Regions from separate parts of the Homo sapiens genome. Here region 2 is linked to region 1. A link means that fine-mapping ties the variant in region 1 to the expression of a gene that starts in the linked region. Tissue or cell type: whole blood. Region 1 holds a variant in brackets; the other region holds the start of a gene. All regions are shown on one strand. Distances are from middle to middle.

What was found. PIP is the estimated chance that this variant, and not a neighbour inherited with it, causes the effect.
Region 2: MUC20 starts here. The variant in region 1 is fine-mapped to the expression of MUC20 in whole blood (TOPMed, PIP above 0.99).

What each region holds. Positions count from the first base shown.
Region 1 is chr3:195,587,154-195,592,302 of GRCh38, reverse strand. No RefSeq gene overlaps it. Among named protein-coding and RNA genes, the nearest start is that of APOD, 5.8 kb to the right of the region's middle. The variant G/A (reference allele first, on the strand shown) is at 2,157.
Region 2 is chr3:195,718,392-195,723,540 of GRCh38, reverse strand. It overlaps MUC20 (mucin 20, cell surface associated), which reads right to left and starts at 2,563. Exons shown (of 4, transcript NM_001282506.2): 1 at 2,458-2,563. The coding sequence starts at 2,533.

The DNA.
Region 1 (5,149 bases):
TCCTCTCCTGCTCCCATCCTCTCCCTCCCTCCTTCTCCTTTCTCTCTCGAGGCAGCACATGGCTTCCAAGACATCTCAGGCTGCAGCCTGCTCCTGCCTCTCAGGAGTGGTCCCCAACTCCACTTATGAGTGTGTGGATGTGACAGCCCTGCTACCCAGATGATGACAGCATGTGAGGCCCAAGAGCCTGGGTGTCTCCCTCCAGGGGCCTGGGCCCCAGCCCACTTGCGATGGTTCCATTGCCTCTTGTTTATTGACCCCTCTGACCCAGCATTGAGAAACTTCCCTTAATTCCTCCACACCCAGATGGACTTGGTTAAGAGAATCCCAATCCCAGAAGGGACACTAATGGAAATGACAGAATGTTGAGTCAAGCTGGGACCCCACAGATCTTCTGGCAGCATTTCAACCCTTTCTGTGCCGTGTGCCCCTTTGACAGCTTGGCAAAAAAATATCCATAAATACATAAAATAAAAGACATGAGATCACAAAGGAATTCAATTATCTTGAAAAACAATTCTACCCAACTTCCTATGGACATCCATGGATTTCAGATGATCAACACCTGACAGCCAAACCTCTTGCTGAAAACTTAGGAAACTCTCCAAGGTCACTCAGCGAAGAAGTGAGAGGCCTTGGACAGGAACCCCATCTCCTTATTCCTGCACCTGTGCTTTTGTGTTTTTTACTAATTTAATATTTCAGGAAACTAAGAAAAACAAAACAGAAATCTTGCTGCCTCTGCTTTGAAAACTGAATTTCATCCATGTGGGAAGGTGTGGAGGAAACCCTGCTGGCCCTCAGAGTATTCATAAGAACTGACCTTGCTTTATCCAGGATTGCAACACCAGGCAAATATTATTTCTCGGTAAACATCTGGAAAAGCTTAGGGTCACAGTAAATTGGTGGAGGATTTGGCCAGGGCACTGGTGACTGGTTGAGACGCCCAACTCCTAAACGTGGTGGGCAGCACTGTTGGATTGTGGACTGAGTAGATGGGTCAATTCCTCTGCTTTCAGGAGGTCAGGGTCAGGGAGTCTGGAACACTGGCCTCTGAGCCTGCTACCGACGTCTCGGCCCTCAACTCTTGTTAGGAATTAGTGAGCAGTTGGTGCCCCCTTGTTCTGCTGGGAAGACTGGCAGGTATTTAACCTGAGAGCATTAACCCCTGGCCCATCTCCCAGCTGAGCCCTTTCACTCCTTTCTCTCCCTGCTGGGGTAAGAGAATGTAATGGATAAAAGCATGAGTTTGGTCAGGGTTTAAATTCTCACTTCATCGCTTCAGAAAAGTTGCATGGCCATCTCCCCCTCCCCTCTGTTTGTTTGTTTGTTTTTTGAACTGGAGTCTCACTCTGTCACTCAGGCTGGAGTACAGTGGCACCATCTCGGCTCACTGCAACCTCCGCCTCCCGGGTTCAAGTGATTCTCCTGCCTCAGCCTCCCGAGGAGCTGGGATTACAGGCGCCCGCCACCACCCCCTGCTAATTTTTGTATTTTTAGTAGAGACGGAGTTTCATCATGTTGGCCAGGCTGGTCTGGAACTCCTGACCTCAAGTGATCCACCTGCCTCCGCCTCCCAAAGTGCTGGGATTATAGGCGTGAGCCACTGCACCTGGCCCTCTCTGTGTTTTTATCCCTCTAATGGGAATAGTAGTCATGCCTGCCTTTTAGGGTGTAGCAACAATTAGAGCTAAGGTACAGAAAGCACCTACACAGGACCTGATGTGTTGCATTCTGCATTCTGTGGTTAGGAGTCATTATTCTAATAAGCTCTGGGTTGCACCTTCCACACTGTTGTGGGAAGTCAGGGACCCTGAATGGAGGGACCAGCTGGAGCTGCAGCAGAGGAACATAAATTGTGAAGATTTCATGGACATTTATCAGTTCCCAAATAATACTTTTCTAATTTCTTATGCCTGTCTTTACTTTAATCTCTTAATCCTGTTATCTTCATAAGCTGAGGATATACGTCACCTCAGGACCACTGTGATAATTGTGTTAACTGTACAAATTGATTGTAAAACATGTGTGTTTGAAAAATATGAAATCAGTGCACCTTGAAAAAGAACAGAATAACAGTGATTTTTAGGGAACAAGGGAAGACAACCATAAGGTCTGACTGCCTGCGGGGTTGGGCAAAAAGAGCCACATTTTTC[G/A]TCTTGCAGAGAGCCTATAAATGGACGTGCAAGTAAGAAAGATATCGCTGAATTCTTTTCCTAGCAAGGAATATTAATATTAATACCCTGGGAAAGGAATGCATTCCTGGGGGGAGATCTATAAACAGCCGCTATGGGAATGTCTGTCTTATGCGGTTGAGATAAGGACTGAGATATGCCCTGGTCTCCTGCAGTACCCTCAGGCTTATTAGGGTGGGGAAAAGCTCTGCCTTGGTAAATTTGTGGTCAGACTGGTTCTCTGCTCTTGAACCCTGTTTTCTGTTGTTTAAGATGTTTATCAAGACAATATGTGCACTGCTGAACATAGACCCTTATCTGTGGTTCTGCTTTTGCCCTTTGTCCTGTTCCCTCAGAGGCATGTGATCTTTGTTAGACCCTTATTAGTAGTTCTGCTTTTTGCCTTTTGAAGCATGTGATCTTTGTACCTACTCCCTGCTTTACATCCCCTCCCCTTTTGAAACCCTTAATAAAAAACTTGCTGGTTTGAGGCTCGGGTGGGCATCACGTTCCTACTGATATGTGATGTCACCCCCAGCAGCCCAGCTGTAAAATTCCTCTCTTTGTACTCTTTCTCTTTATTTCTCAGCTGGCTGACACTTATGGAAAATAGAAAGAACCTGCATTGAAATATTGGGGGCGGGTTCCCCCGATACCACACTGTGTCCCTTACAAATAAAGCAGGTGCTAAGGCAGGTGTTGTTAGCCAAGTGGATGTGTTCAGAAAAGACCCTCCACCATCATCAGAGCAGACCTATTTCTCCCACACATCTCAGCAAAGTACATGACTTGACCACAGTCACACAAAGAGAAAATCCTGTCTCAGCTTCTTCCTGATCTACACAGCTCCTTCATCTGGGTGTTTACTCTCTGCCTTCCTCTTGTTTCTACAGACACAGAACCTTCCTTTCTCTCCAAAGCCAGCACCTCCACCTGCACTCTGGATCCCTCCCCTCTCTCCTGCAGATTTTTCCTCTACTAGATCGTCCCTCTGTGCATGCTCTAAGCATCTCCCTTAACCTGCAGGTCTCTGTTCAACTACTATTTCTCTACTTTCCTTCACAGGTAAAGAGCATTGCTGCCTCCTCTTTCCCTCCTCAACCCACTCCAACTGGACTTCTGCCCTCCCTGCTCCCCCTGCCTCTTTTCTTGGCTCCTTCTTCTCTGCTCAGTCTCTGAAGGTTAGAGGGTACCAGGGATCTGTCCTGGGCATCCTTTTTTTCCATTTCTAAATGTCCTCCCTTAGTGTTCCCATCCAGTCTCATGGCTTTGAAGACCATGTATGTTCTGATGACTTCCCAATCTCTATCTCCAGCCCTGATTTTCCCCCAAACTTCACTTGAATATCTAATTGCTTTCTTAACATTTTCACTTAGATGTCTGATGGGGCAACTCAAACATAGCTTATCCATAAAGAACTTGAGTTCTTCTCCCAGACTCACCCTCCAGGCTTCCCATCTGTAGCAGCTGGCAGGTGCGTTCACCTGATTTTTCAACCTTTACATCTAAGAGCCAGTCTCGATTCCCGGCTTTCCTCATCTTCCACCTGCGGCCCATCAGCAAGTCTTGTCCACTTTATCTCCAAAGCACATTCCAAATTTGCCCACTTCTCTCCATCTGTATGCTAATCACTCTAGCCCAAACCACCATCAAACTATTTCCCAAATGACCACAGGGGCTCCTCAGCTGATCCATCTGTAACCATTTTATTCTCCATTCTTGATAGTCAAGCCCAAATAACCATGTCATGCTCTTGCCTAAAACCTTCCCATGACTCCTACTGTACTTGAAATAAAATTCAAGGTCCTCAAAGCAAGATAGATTCTGGTTTCTGTCTACCTCTCCACACTCACTTCCTCCTCACCTCTGCTCCAGCCAAACTGGTCTCTCCATTTCTTAAAAACTTAATGTCTGTTCCCACCTTAGGACCCCTGCACTGGCAGTTCTTCCTGGAACACTCTTCCTTTGGTGTTTGAATGACTGGTTCCCATTCATCACTCACATCTCAGCTGAAATGTCAGTATTCAAAGAGACTCTTCCTGACCACCAGACCGAAGTGGGCACCCTTCACTTCCTATCACGTCATCCTATTCTCTTTTCTAACCTCCCAGAGGAGAGTCACACAGATAGACAGGAAAAATAGGTACTCTCCCTCCTCAACCCACTCTAATTAGGTATTTTTCCTGTCTGTCTGTCTATCTCGCCTCTGGGAGGTAAGTCCCACAAGGGCTGAGACATTGTCTTTCTTCTTTACCACTATATCTGCAGGACTCAGAACAGTGCCCCGCACCCCCGTGTGTGTGTGTGTGTGTGTGTGTGTGTGTGTGTGTGTGTATACATACAGCAACGTAGTGTTGCTATATGTTGTTGAATGCGTGAATGAATGGATAAATAAATTAGTAACAGAGCTAGGACCAGAACCCAGGCCTCCTGCCCCCAGTCCAGTGTTCTTCCCTGCATGCCATATCAAGCTGCTGTTTTCACCAGTTTGATTGCTGTCTTCCTGTTGACCAGATGCTTGGCACCATTAAACTTTCAACTAGTTCCAGAGCCCAGTGAGAAGGGAAATGGCCACCAGGGCACAGGAGGGAGAGGAAAGAGGGCCTCTGAATGAATAATGAGGTCTATAACAAGCCCAGCAAGGACTGAGAATCTAGCATATTCTATTATTCATTCCATCATTCACGGAATATTTAGTAAACACTTACGTGTCAGGCATCATGTAAGGTGCCAGGGATAAAAAGACAATCCTACTTGGGTGGATCTGACCGTCTCCAGAAGGAGATGGAGGCATAAGCATAGTGTAATGAGTGAGGACAGGGTGACATGTGCCATGAAAACACAAAGCAGATGGGAGAACGCTGCGTGGGGTGGGCTAGGAATCCAGAAGATGACCCAGGGAGGGGGACATTTGAGCCGAGTCTTAAAGAGTGAAGGTGCACTACTGAAACCTCTCAGTCTGCATTTTCACACGA
Region 2 (5,149 bases), 130 kb before region 1:
AAAATTGTTACCTGAAATTCAAATGTAACTGGATGCCCTGTGTTTTATCTGGTAATCCCAGTCTTGGAAGGAAAAGGATCAAATACGAACCCCCTAATTCTCTGAGCCTTCTTGGTCCAGCCTACACAGCTGGAAGCCCAAAGGTGGCGCTCTTGGAGTCTGACCTCCCCTGGCACAGGGTTTGAGATGGTCTTTACCCAGCTCCACTGGCCCAAAAGTAGCCCATAGACCCAAAAGGGGCCTAGCACCTCTCCCCAGGGCATCAGGATGGGGCCCCAGGTCCCCAACTGGTTGTCCTGTGGACCTCAGGGAATGACGACGCAGGAGTCAAGAGCCTCGGTTGCAGCTCCCGCTGTGCCGCCCACGACTGGCTCCGGGGTCAGATGATCTGCTGGTTCAAATCCTGACTCAGCCTCCTACTAGCCAGGCCAGTCTCTAGACCCCTCCCAGCCTCCATGTCCTCACCTGAGAAAACAGGGTCACAATACCTGCCTTGCCAACGTGATGAGGACCAGCGGAGAAGGTGAAAGGGCTTATATTCCAAAGCCCACAAGGTAAGCATCCCTCCCTATGGAGTCCTCTCCCAGGCCACTGGAAAGCACGCATAGTTGATCTGACTATAGTGAGGAGTGCGGGCTGCACCCCCAGGCAGTATAGGCGAGTCCCGGGCACCCACTCTCATCCCTGGTCCAGTGCGGCCCAGCTGCACACACAAATCTCACTTTTGCAGGAACTGTTCGTCTGCCTTCATAATACAGTTTCTTCTCCCCACTTCAAGCCTGAGATCATTTCTTTGAGCCTTCTTGGTCCAGCCCACACAGCTGGAAGCCCAGAGTGGTGCCCTTGGAGCCCGACTTCCCCTGGCACATTTTCTGGCTTATCCAGGAGCCCCGGGGTGTCCTTTCTGCTGTGAAACCTCCTCATGCTCCCCAAGCCCACAGCCTCTCGGGTCCAAGGGGGTCTTCTCGAATACAGCAAATCCCAGCCCAGCCCCTCAGTAGCTCTGGAACACTGCGGCTCTCCTGGTACAATCTTCAAATCTGGTGGAGAGGAAAGCGTGTGGACTTGGGACCCTGAGTTGGAGAATCTGCTCTCTGCCCTGTGACCCTGGCCAAGTCTCTCAGCTCCAAGCCTGCATTTCCGCACCTGTAAGGTGGAGCTAACGGGACACGTGCAGCGCAGACCAGGCCACGGTGAGCACAGGCAGGAGGCCACGGGGTGCAGTGCTCAGGCCTGTGAGGAGTCAGATTCTGGCTCCGAGGAGTTGTTACTGGATGCCCAGAAGCACAGTGGCCTCACCCTTAAAGCAGTGGAGGTGGGGGGTGGTAAAAACAGGGCCGATCTTGCAGGGCCGTTGTGAGGATTAAAAATACAATGTATGATAATGATGCATCAAAGTAGGTTCCTCAGTCCTATCAAATGTGCCACTCTGGTGGGGGACGCTGATGATGGGGGAGGCTGTGAGTGGTGGGGATGGGAACTCCAGACTCTCCACTGCAGCTTTTTTTTTTTTGAAACATAGTTTCACTTTTGTTGCCCAGGCCAGAGCGCAAGGGTGCGATCTCAGCTCACTGCAAACTCCACCTCCCAGGTTCAAGCAATTCTCCTGCCTCAGCCTCCCGAGTAGCTGGGATTACAGGCACCTGCTACCACCCCCGGCTAATTTTGTATTTTTAGTAGAGACGGGGTTTCTCCATGTTGGTCAGGCTGGTCTCGAACTCCTGACCTCAGGTGATCCACCCACCTCAGCCTCCCAAAATGCTGGGATTACAGGTGTGAGCCACCACGCCCGGCCTCTCCACTCGAGGTTTAGAGGGAGCATAGAACTAAAAAAAAAATAAATCCTTTTCTATTTTTTAATGTATGTGATGAGTTTGGCACAACTCCTATTAGCGACAGGTCAGGGTTCATTCCCGTCTTTCACAAAAGCCCTGCCTGTCAGCATCCACCCTTCCCAAGCAGTTTGTGGCAGTTGGACTTTTCACACGAAATCTGTATTTTGAAGGAAATCCATGCTAGGTAATAAACTGGGAGGAGTCAGAATCTTGTTAAGCCACATTCTTCAGCTTTCTGCACAATGATCACCAGCTGGCACCTCCCTGCACCCCCGCTCCGTGCCCCACTTACTGTCCCACGTTCATAAAGACAAACTCTCAGCCATCCCTTACGATGGCAGCGTCATGGTTGATTAGCGTGTACTGCAGCGCCAGGCACGCTTACACTCACACACATCGTCATGGTTGATTAGTGTGTACTGCAGCGCCATGCACGCTTACACTCACACTGTCATTTGCACACTCTTTATCAACAATAATAGCACTTCACAAGTAGCACTGTGGTTCATTATAATCAACCCGAGAGAGCCTGCCCTTGCCCATGAAGGGTGGCTCATACTGAAATTCACTCCCAGAGCCCTACTAGGGGAGAGGCCCACCAGGCCCTTCTAGGCCTCCTTACCTGCAGAGCTCCCAGAGACCCCAACCTCCCAGCAGAAGAAGAAAAGGGGCAGAGCCAGACCCCAGAGACAGCCCATCCTAGCCGGCCACCGCTGCTCCACAGAACTGCTGGCTGTCTCTCGCGGGTACCTTTTCCTGCTTCCTCAAACCAGGGAGGAGGGGCAGCCTCCTGCCCAGGTGTGTGACCAGGTGATCACAAATGTGCAGGCTGAGGGCTGGCAGGTTGAGGCTGTCAGCAAGCTGACCCCCCTGCCTTCCTTGCCCGGTAAACACTCCACTGAAATTTGATTTGAAGATATGGAATCACTAGCTTCTTTTTTTTTTTTTGAGATGGAGTCTTGCTCTGTCACCCAGGCTGGAGTGTACAGTAATGAGATCTCAGCTCAATGAAACCTCTTCCTCCCGGGATCCAACAATTCTCCTGCCTCAGCCTCTGGAGTAGCTGGGATTATAGGCGCGCACCACCACGTCGGGCTAATTTTTGTATTTTTAGTAGAGATGGGGTTTCACCATGTTGGCCAGGCTAGTCTCAAACTCCTGACCTCAGGTGATCTACCTACCTCAGCCTCCCAAAGTGCTGGGAGTACAGGCATGAGCCACTGCACCCAGCCAAGTGCTTTTATTTTCTTAAGCCAATTAATTAGAGCTCTTTTATATATTTTCAGTAGCAAAACACTGTGTACACAACAACACATAAATACACAGATGTATTAGGTATGCTGAAAGAAGTTCATCTTATAGATTCATAAAGAGCTTTTTTCTTACACCTTCAAATTCTTTTTTACTTTTTTTTTTTTTTTTTTTGAGACAGAGTCTCACTCTGTTGCCCAGGCTGGAGTGCAATGGCTTGATCTCGACTCACTGCAAACTCTGCCTCCTGGCTTCAAGTGATTCTCCTGCCTCAGCTTCCTGAGTAGCTGGGATTATAGGCACCTGCCACCACATCTGGCTAATTTTTTTTGTATTTTTAGTAGAGACGGGGTTTCAACATGTTGGCCAAGATGGTTTTGAACTCCTGACCTCAAGAGATCTTTGCGGCTCAGCCTCCCAAATGCTAGGATTACAGACGTGAGCCACCGTGCCCAGCCACACCTTCGAATTCTTGATAACCTGTTTTACTACTCTAAGCGGTTGTCAGCTAAATAGCCTTGAATTTGCATTTTAAGGAAACTGAGGTGAAAATCGAATAGCAAAATTTACATCATAACGTATGGAGAGAAAAAGTCTGGTGTGCTGGAGGGAAATTAAAACAGATTTAATTGCCAATTAAACATAAAATTATAGAAATTATAAAGGCCTTTTAAATATATACACACACACAAAGATCCTATAGCTTTTACTTCAGAAATTTAGCCATGAAAGCTGGGCGCGGTGACTCACGCCTGTAATCCCAGCACCTTGGGAGGCCGAGGCGGGCAGATCACCTGAGGTCAGGAGTTGGAGACCAGCCTGACGAACATGGAGAAACCCCATCTCTACTAAAAATACAAAAAATTAGCCAGGCATGGTGGTGCATGCCTGTAATCCCAGCTACTCGGGAGGCTGAGGCAAGAGAATCACTTGAACCAGGGAAGAGGAGACTGTGGTGACCCAAGATCACGCCATTGCACTCCAGCCTGGGCAACAAGAGTGAAACTCTGCCTCAAAAAAAAAAAAAGAAAAAAAAAAAAGAGAAAGAAAAGAAAAAAAGAAATTTAGCCATGAAATAAATACAAATTCACCAGTTTACAAACAGAAAAACTATCTGATCCAAACAGTGTTTTTTATCTTAATAGAAAAATAACAGCAAATTTAAAGCAGGCAGAGAAGAAACTAGAGAAAAAAGAGGACTCAGGAACTCTACAGTTTGCAGGTCAACCTCAGGGCTCCTTTTTTTTTAATGTAAATGTGCAGAAAGACCATATTACTTCCACTTTACATAAACTCTGGCAAGTAGAGGCGCCATGAACCCTATGGAGTACTCGGCTGGGAGGAGCAAACGCCCTTTCTCTTTGGAGCTGAGAAAACTCAATCTCTCATTTACCTATGACAACAACAGTTCAGTTCCTCATGCAAATACATAGACAACCCAAACTGAGATTCATTTTGGGAGAAAAAGCAATAGAGAAGACCCTTTAGGATGCATCTCTGAACTAGAATTAGGATCCTTAAATCACAGCTTCCTAGAAGAGAAAAAAAAAAAAACAAAAAAACAGCCAAGACCATTCCCTGTAAACTGTGCTCAGCCACCCCTTCTTTGTAGTTCTCGTCTGCCATTACACACGCCAAGGTCAAATCCTCTCACAGTGCAGGGTCATCTCTGGTTCCCCCAAAGCCAAAGAGGTCAGGTCATGCCGTACAGGAAGACAGCAGAGCTTTAGACCTAAGAAGAATCCGCCCATCACTCTTGAAACTCCACAAAGAAAACAGAGCACCCTGGAAGGGGTGAGTGGCCCCTTTGTTCCGGATCCTTTAAAGGGGCTCGAGTCATTGGAAGCCTTCTCTAGATTTTTTTGGTCCCGCAGATGGCAAAGGCAGGAGGAGGTATAGGGAGGAAGAAAAGTAAGTGAAAGAGCATTTGTTGTTTTTGTTTGTTTGTTTTTTAAGACAGAAAGCAAACACAGAAACCAAGCACGTGATTTGTTGTTTTCGTTTAGTTTTTTCCTCTTTTGCAGCTGCAAGGAATTTTAGCCAAATTAGAGAGGCTTTGTTAC